Linked DNA regions of Homo sapiens: region 2 is linked to region 1. Evidence: fine-mapped expression QTL. A gene starts in region 1. The other region holds a variant in brackets. All regions are shown on one strand. Distances are from middle to middle.

Region 1 (2,989 bases):
AAGGTTAGGGAAAGGGAACCAAATTCCAGGAAAAGCCAAGGCCCACAACAAAAACTAACACAGCCTGGAAGGCCCAGCCTCCTCCCAGTAAACTTATTAATTTTATCCAGAAAGACATGGCTCTCCACCCTCTGGGGTTATGCCCTTCTCCCAGCACACATGTTTTGACTTCCAAATCCAGCCAGGCAGGCTCCCAACCTCCCTCCCCCTCAAAATTGATCTCCAGGCCCAGCTGACCCCCTCTGATCTGTTCCCCCAATCATCCTTAATAACAGTGCTCTGGGCCTCCCACTAGGAGGTCCTCCAAGAGCCAGGCCAGTGGCCATCAGGTCAAGAGCCAAGCATGAGGGCCCCATTAACAGGAGACTCCCAGAAGACCAAGCGGCAGTCATCTGGCTGGAAAATCCAGCAAGCAAGTTAAAAAGGAAAAAAATCAGGACATACACGTGGTGGATCATAGAAAAAAAAGAGGAAAAGCAAGCAAAAACTATACAAAGCAAAACTCTACCATTTAAATAACAGCCACAAAATAAAAGACTTTCCCTTCTTTCATTCTGATTTACAAGTCAAAAGAATAAGCACCTCACCCCTCCTGGTCTCATACTTTAAAATTTAACCTAAGGATTAACTGCTTTTCAGACTTTGGTCATGTCATGACTGACTCTTCGGGGAAGAAATTTGTGTTAAGACACAGAAGTGCTTTAGTGGAAAACAGCCCATGATGAGGGAAATTCACCATTTTGCACCTTGTCAATTTTTTTTTTTTTTTTCTGAGACGCTCTGTCCCCCAGGCTGGAGTGCAGTGGCACGATCTCAGCTCACTGCAAGCTCCGCCTCCTGGGTTCACGCTATTCTCCTGCCTCAGCCTCCCGAGAAGCTGGGACTGCAGGCGCCCGCCACCACGCCCGGCTAATTTTTTGTATTTTTAGTAGAGACGGGGGTTTCACCGTGTTAGCCTGGATGGTCTCGATCTCCTGACCTCGTGATCCACCCGCCTTGGCCTCCCAAAGTGCTGGGATTACAGGCGTGAGCCACCGCGCCCGGCCCCTTGTCAATCTTTAAATAAAAAGGAAACGGCTAAAAATGAAAAGATATCCCTAGGCCTTTCTACTCAGGATAACTGTAACCAAACAGCATTATCTCATCTAAACTCAGCTGTGCCTCAAACATTATCACAAGTGCTGGAAGCGTTTAAATCTACAAGCAACACTAGCCTAAAAATGCCTTCGGTAGCCAGACGTGAATTAAAGGCTCCTCAAATGCCAGGAAAATGTCCTACAAGGGTAAGGGGAGGAGAGAAAGAGTACTGAATACAGATAAGTGGGCACTGATCGGAGAGGAAGCAGCACGGGTTCCAGACACCTAATAGGCAGCCTTGGGGATGCAGTCAAGGCCGACCCTTCCCTTCCCTTCCCTTAAGTGGCCGGACGCCTCACCCAGAAGAGGACACAGGGGACTCAACAACGTCTCGGGAACAACGGCCCGGCGGGTGTGAGACTAAGCGGCCAGGAGGAGGAAGGGGAGGAGGAGGCAGGGGAGGAGGAGGCAACGACTGCGGGAAAGGGGAAGGAAGGGCCGGGCCGGGTTGGAGAAGCCTCTTTCTGGGCGTGCGCGCTAAGAGCCTGCGCACCAGCAAAAGCCCCCAGCGCCCACGTGGGACTGAGAGGAGGGTCACTTACAGTACTTGTCCAATCTGAAATTACATTTTAGCTAGACGGATTCTGCACGTAGCCGCGCCGAACCCCACGGCGCCTGAGCAGGGCGGTCCCGGGGCGGCTACAGCCCCGCCTTGCGCGCGATCCCGCCCCCGCCGGCGCGGCCCCTGTAAAGCGCGGCCCCTGTAAAGCGCGGCCCCTGTAAAGCGCGGCCCCTGTAAAGCGCGGCCCCTGTAAAGCGCGGCCCCTGTAAAGCGCGGCCCCTGTAAAGCGCGGCCCCTGTAAAGCGCGGCCTGATTGGCCCTTTGAACCGGGCGTGGGATTGGCCGTCGCCTGCCCACCCCGCGGCTGCAGCGTTCCCTGGGGCCTAGCCAACCGCGGGCAGGGCTGGGCAAGGCGGGAGGAGCGCGGACCCAAGATCGGCTACGCTGCGTCTGCTCAGGCTGCGAGTTCCCGGCTCTGGGGACTCACCTTGCGGAGCTTACCCAGGCGGACTCTCCGCAGCCCCTGATGGGTGTGTGTGTCAGACCGTTTACTAAACACCAGGACTGTTGTAGGCGACTGTAAGAAATAAGAATATTGCATGGTTACAATTCTTGAATGCTTACCTTGTGTCTTGTTCCTTACTCTACAGAAATTTTCTAATCCCGTGGCGAACCCCCGTACTTCAACGTATGACATTCTGTAAATCTACAAAACAGATGGGTCCCTGCCTTTGAGAAGTTTTTACAATTTAGTGGGTACTGGACACGGACCTAATTTAATTCTCACATGCCTTCCCTTTCTAATAAGCTGCATGTTATGTATCCCTATTCTACAGATGTGGGGAATCCGAAATTTTTAGCTTTTACTGGGACACACAGCTAGCAAGCAACTAAAGCGAGAATTCCAACCTGAGCTCCAATCCGAACTATTTTCATAAAAGGCAGGATCCCAGGCTGAGGGAGTTCGAGGTTTGGGAGACAGTTTAGCAGTCGCTGAGTCCAAACATGTTGTTTTCCTAGAAAAGAAAACTGAGATCCAGGAAAGGGAAGTGATTTTCCAAAGACACACCTGTGAAAGGTAATAATTTCACTGAACGGATCTTAAGTGGCAGGTGCACTAAGATTGTCTGCTATCTTCACAACAACCCCGAAGTAAATAAGTGCTCTTATCTTGGTCTTACAGGTGAGGAGAACAGCCCAGTGAGGCTGAGGCCACACAATTAACCCCAGTCTTTGCACTACAACTCTACCAGGGATCCTGGTTTGGCTCATTTTCTTTCTTCTGCACCATGATTGTTCACCTTTTCATTACCAGCAACATACCCAAAGACCTAGCTATAGACTCGTTGG
Region 2 (2,500 bases), 460 kb before region 1:
GGCTATTGAATTCCTATTGCTAAGGATGCAGTCATTCTGGGATCACATGTGTACAACTTCTTATTCTACACATTTATTAATCACTTACTATGTACCACACACTCTGCTAGGGATACAGATTTGCATACGACATACTCTTTATCCTGGAGAAACTCACATACTAGTAAGGGAGGAAAAAATGTAAAAAAAAAAAAAAAATCTGAATACCATACAGAATATGAGAGCCCCTGGGTATCTTCAAAACATTTCCAAGTGTTTCCCCTGACCATCTTTGCCACCTTACTGTGACTGATTGACTGATTTGCATGCCACTAATTTCCTTCTGCCACTTTGTATATTTACTGGTTTATGTGTTCGTTGTCTGCCTTCTCCACTCCTTGCCCTAACCGGAATGTAAGCTACACAGGGCAAGGACTTGTCTGTTTACTACTAAGTCTCGACACCTGGACTATTCATAAAACATATTGCCTCCCTTTCACGTGCCAAGCATAACACTCAATCTACATGGAATACAGAGAGGAAGATTGCATGGGCCTTTCATCAAAGAGCTCACTATAGAGTGGAAAAGACATTTACTGTGATCAAAATAGAGTGTGATAAATACTACGCTAGAAGCGGATAAACTTCTTTCAGTAGTTATTCAAGGGTTAGGTAACCTGATGGTTCTTTCATCTGCTAGCTTACACGAATTTCCACTCCTGCTAGGTTGCTCTATGGACTCTTCCACAAGGATAGCATGTGCATTCTGAACTAGACATCTAGCTTCCCAGCTCTCAATGGATGTGAATGTGCTGATTGGGAGATCAGAGATGCTAAGAGTAGCCAGCACAATGACAACAGAAAGAAATGGCAGCCTTAAGTAGGGAGGAGATTTTTTTTAATGAAGAAAAATTATTGACAAAGAAACCATGGAGAAAGAGGAAGACTAAAAGGGCTGTCTGGAGTCATTTTGTGGAGGGCCAAA[T/C]GGTCAAACACATCTTAGTGAACATGCTGCCATTCCACTTAGCAGAGGTATGTTAAGAGCTCTGCTTACCCCAGAACAGTTTCCTTCAAAGACGAAGTCCTGATTCCCTTAGAGCAAGCCGGGGTATTGTTGAGATGGTCTCAGCAATCCCCATCATCAACCGTGCCACTCATTCTTATTTTGTCCTTTTCGTCTCTTCCTTGAGTTGTGCTCTGCTGTGCTTTAGGGAGGACCTTGCCTTCTATTGCCAGCTCTGAATCTTCAAACTGCCCTCAGGGAATGCTCCTCCTGGCTGTGCTTTGGCCCCACACTTGAGACAACATTCCAGGATCGCCCTCATGGGTGGGATCCAGGAAACTTCTATTATAGAAGGTACTCCATAAATGTTATTTTCCTTCCCACTGCAACAGATGTGCACATAAACGGCAGACATCAGGGAATTCTTCCCTCCTTTCTCCACATTACCTTTGCTTGTTTTAAAAATAAATTGAGAAGCAAACATCAGCAAGAGAGATTTCAATGGTTTAAAAAGAGGTTATGCTGTTTCTCAGAAAGTACAGATTTAAATGTTAAACTTAGCTCAGGTATCAGCTCTACTGAGATTTTTTTCTGACTCATCCCCGCTGCCTGCCTCCCACCTATATTGAGTTATGTGCTCCAACAGCAACTTCTGCTTCCGTCTATCATAGCGTTTATGACATGGCACCATATTTTTTTGTTAACAGATCAGCCTCCCCAACTAGACTGTGAGCGCCTTAAAGCAGGAATTGTTATAATTATTTTCACTGCCAAACTCGGCATCTGGCATATCGTATGCACTCAGGGAATGTCTACGGAATGAATGAACTTAAGGATAATACACGTGACGGAATGTTAAAATGGAAGTTTTGGCTGAGATCTAAAGATGACAGATATAAGATACCAAAGTGAACTGGAAACAGACCACCCTGAAGAATGTGCAAGAAGGGTGCCTGAGGACCCATTAATCAACTCTTAAACCTTTCATTGATGTGGAAGGTCAGACAGAGATGGATTTTTAGGAAAGAGCTGTTGGTTTACTGCACATCAGGCCTCCTTCCAGGGTGAAGTATGAAGAGATCCTCTCCCTTCAGGAGTCAGGAAGACACAGACCAGCAGAGAATCTGCTGCATGTCCCTGAGGTTGTGGCACATGGTGGCTTGTATGTGACTCCTGTCTGGAAGAGACAGGCTGGCTGACAGCTGCAGTGTAAAAGTGAAGTAGAGGTTACCCTGGGATCAACCAGCACTGCCAGAGTCTGTCCAGATCCAAAAGACAAAGGTTTCCCATAGACCCCAAGTGGCCCATGTATGAGAGAGCTGCCAGGGGTTCTCAGATCCTGTCCAACATGGCCACCTAACGAGGTGGAGCAGTCACCATAAAGAAGCATGAGGTTGGGCCGGGAGCAGTGGTTCATGCTTTTAATCCTGGCACTTTGGGAGGCCAAGGTGGGTGGATCACTTGAGGGCAGGAATTCAAGACCAGCCTGGCCAACATAGTGAAACCCCGTCTCTACTA

Direction of the effects. Alleles are on the strand shown, and positions count from the first base shown. SD is a standard deviation of normalised expression in the study named.
As copies of T replace C in region 2, the expression in pituitary of the gene that starts at base 1,493 in region 1 goes up (small effect, 0.31 SD a copy in GTEx).

What was found. PIP is the estimated chance that this variant, and not a neighbour inherited with it, causes the effect.
Region 2: its variant is the best candidate, but not a certain one, in a credible set for the expression of FGGY in pituitary (GTEx, PIP 0.63).

Annotation. Positions count from the first base shown.
Region 1 is chr1:59,295,598-59,298,586 of GRCh38, reverse strand. It overlaps FGGY (FGGY carbohydrate kinase domain containing), which reads right to left and starts at 1,493. Exons shown (of 16, transcript NM_018291.5): 1 at 1,437-1,493. It overlaps FGGY-DT (FGGY divergent transcript), which reads left to right and starts at 2,037. Exons shown (of 2, transcript XR_001738089.2): 1 at 2,037-2,218; 2 at 2,823-2,989. RefSeq lists an enhancer at 1-34 and silencers at 1,452-1,541, 1,552-2,091.
Region 2 is chr1:59,754,597-59,757,096 of GRCh38, reverse strand. The region is part of intron 14 of FGGY (FGGY carbohydrate kinase domain containing); the gene reads right to left. Among named protein-coding and RNA genes, the nearest start is that of MIR4711, 23 kb to the right of the region's middle. The variant T/C (reference allele first, on the strand shown) is at 965.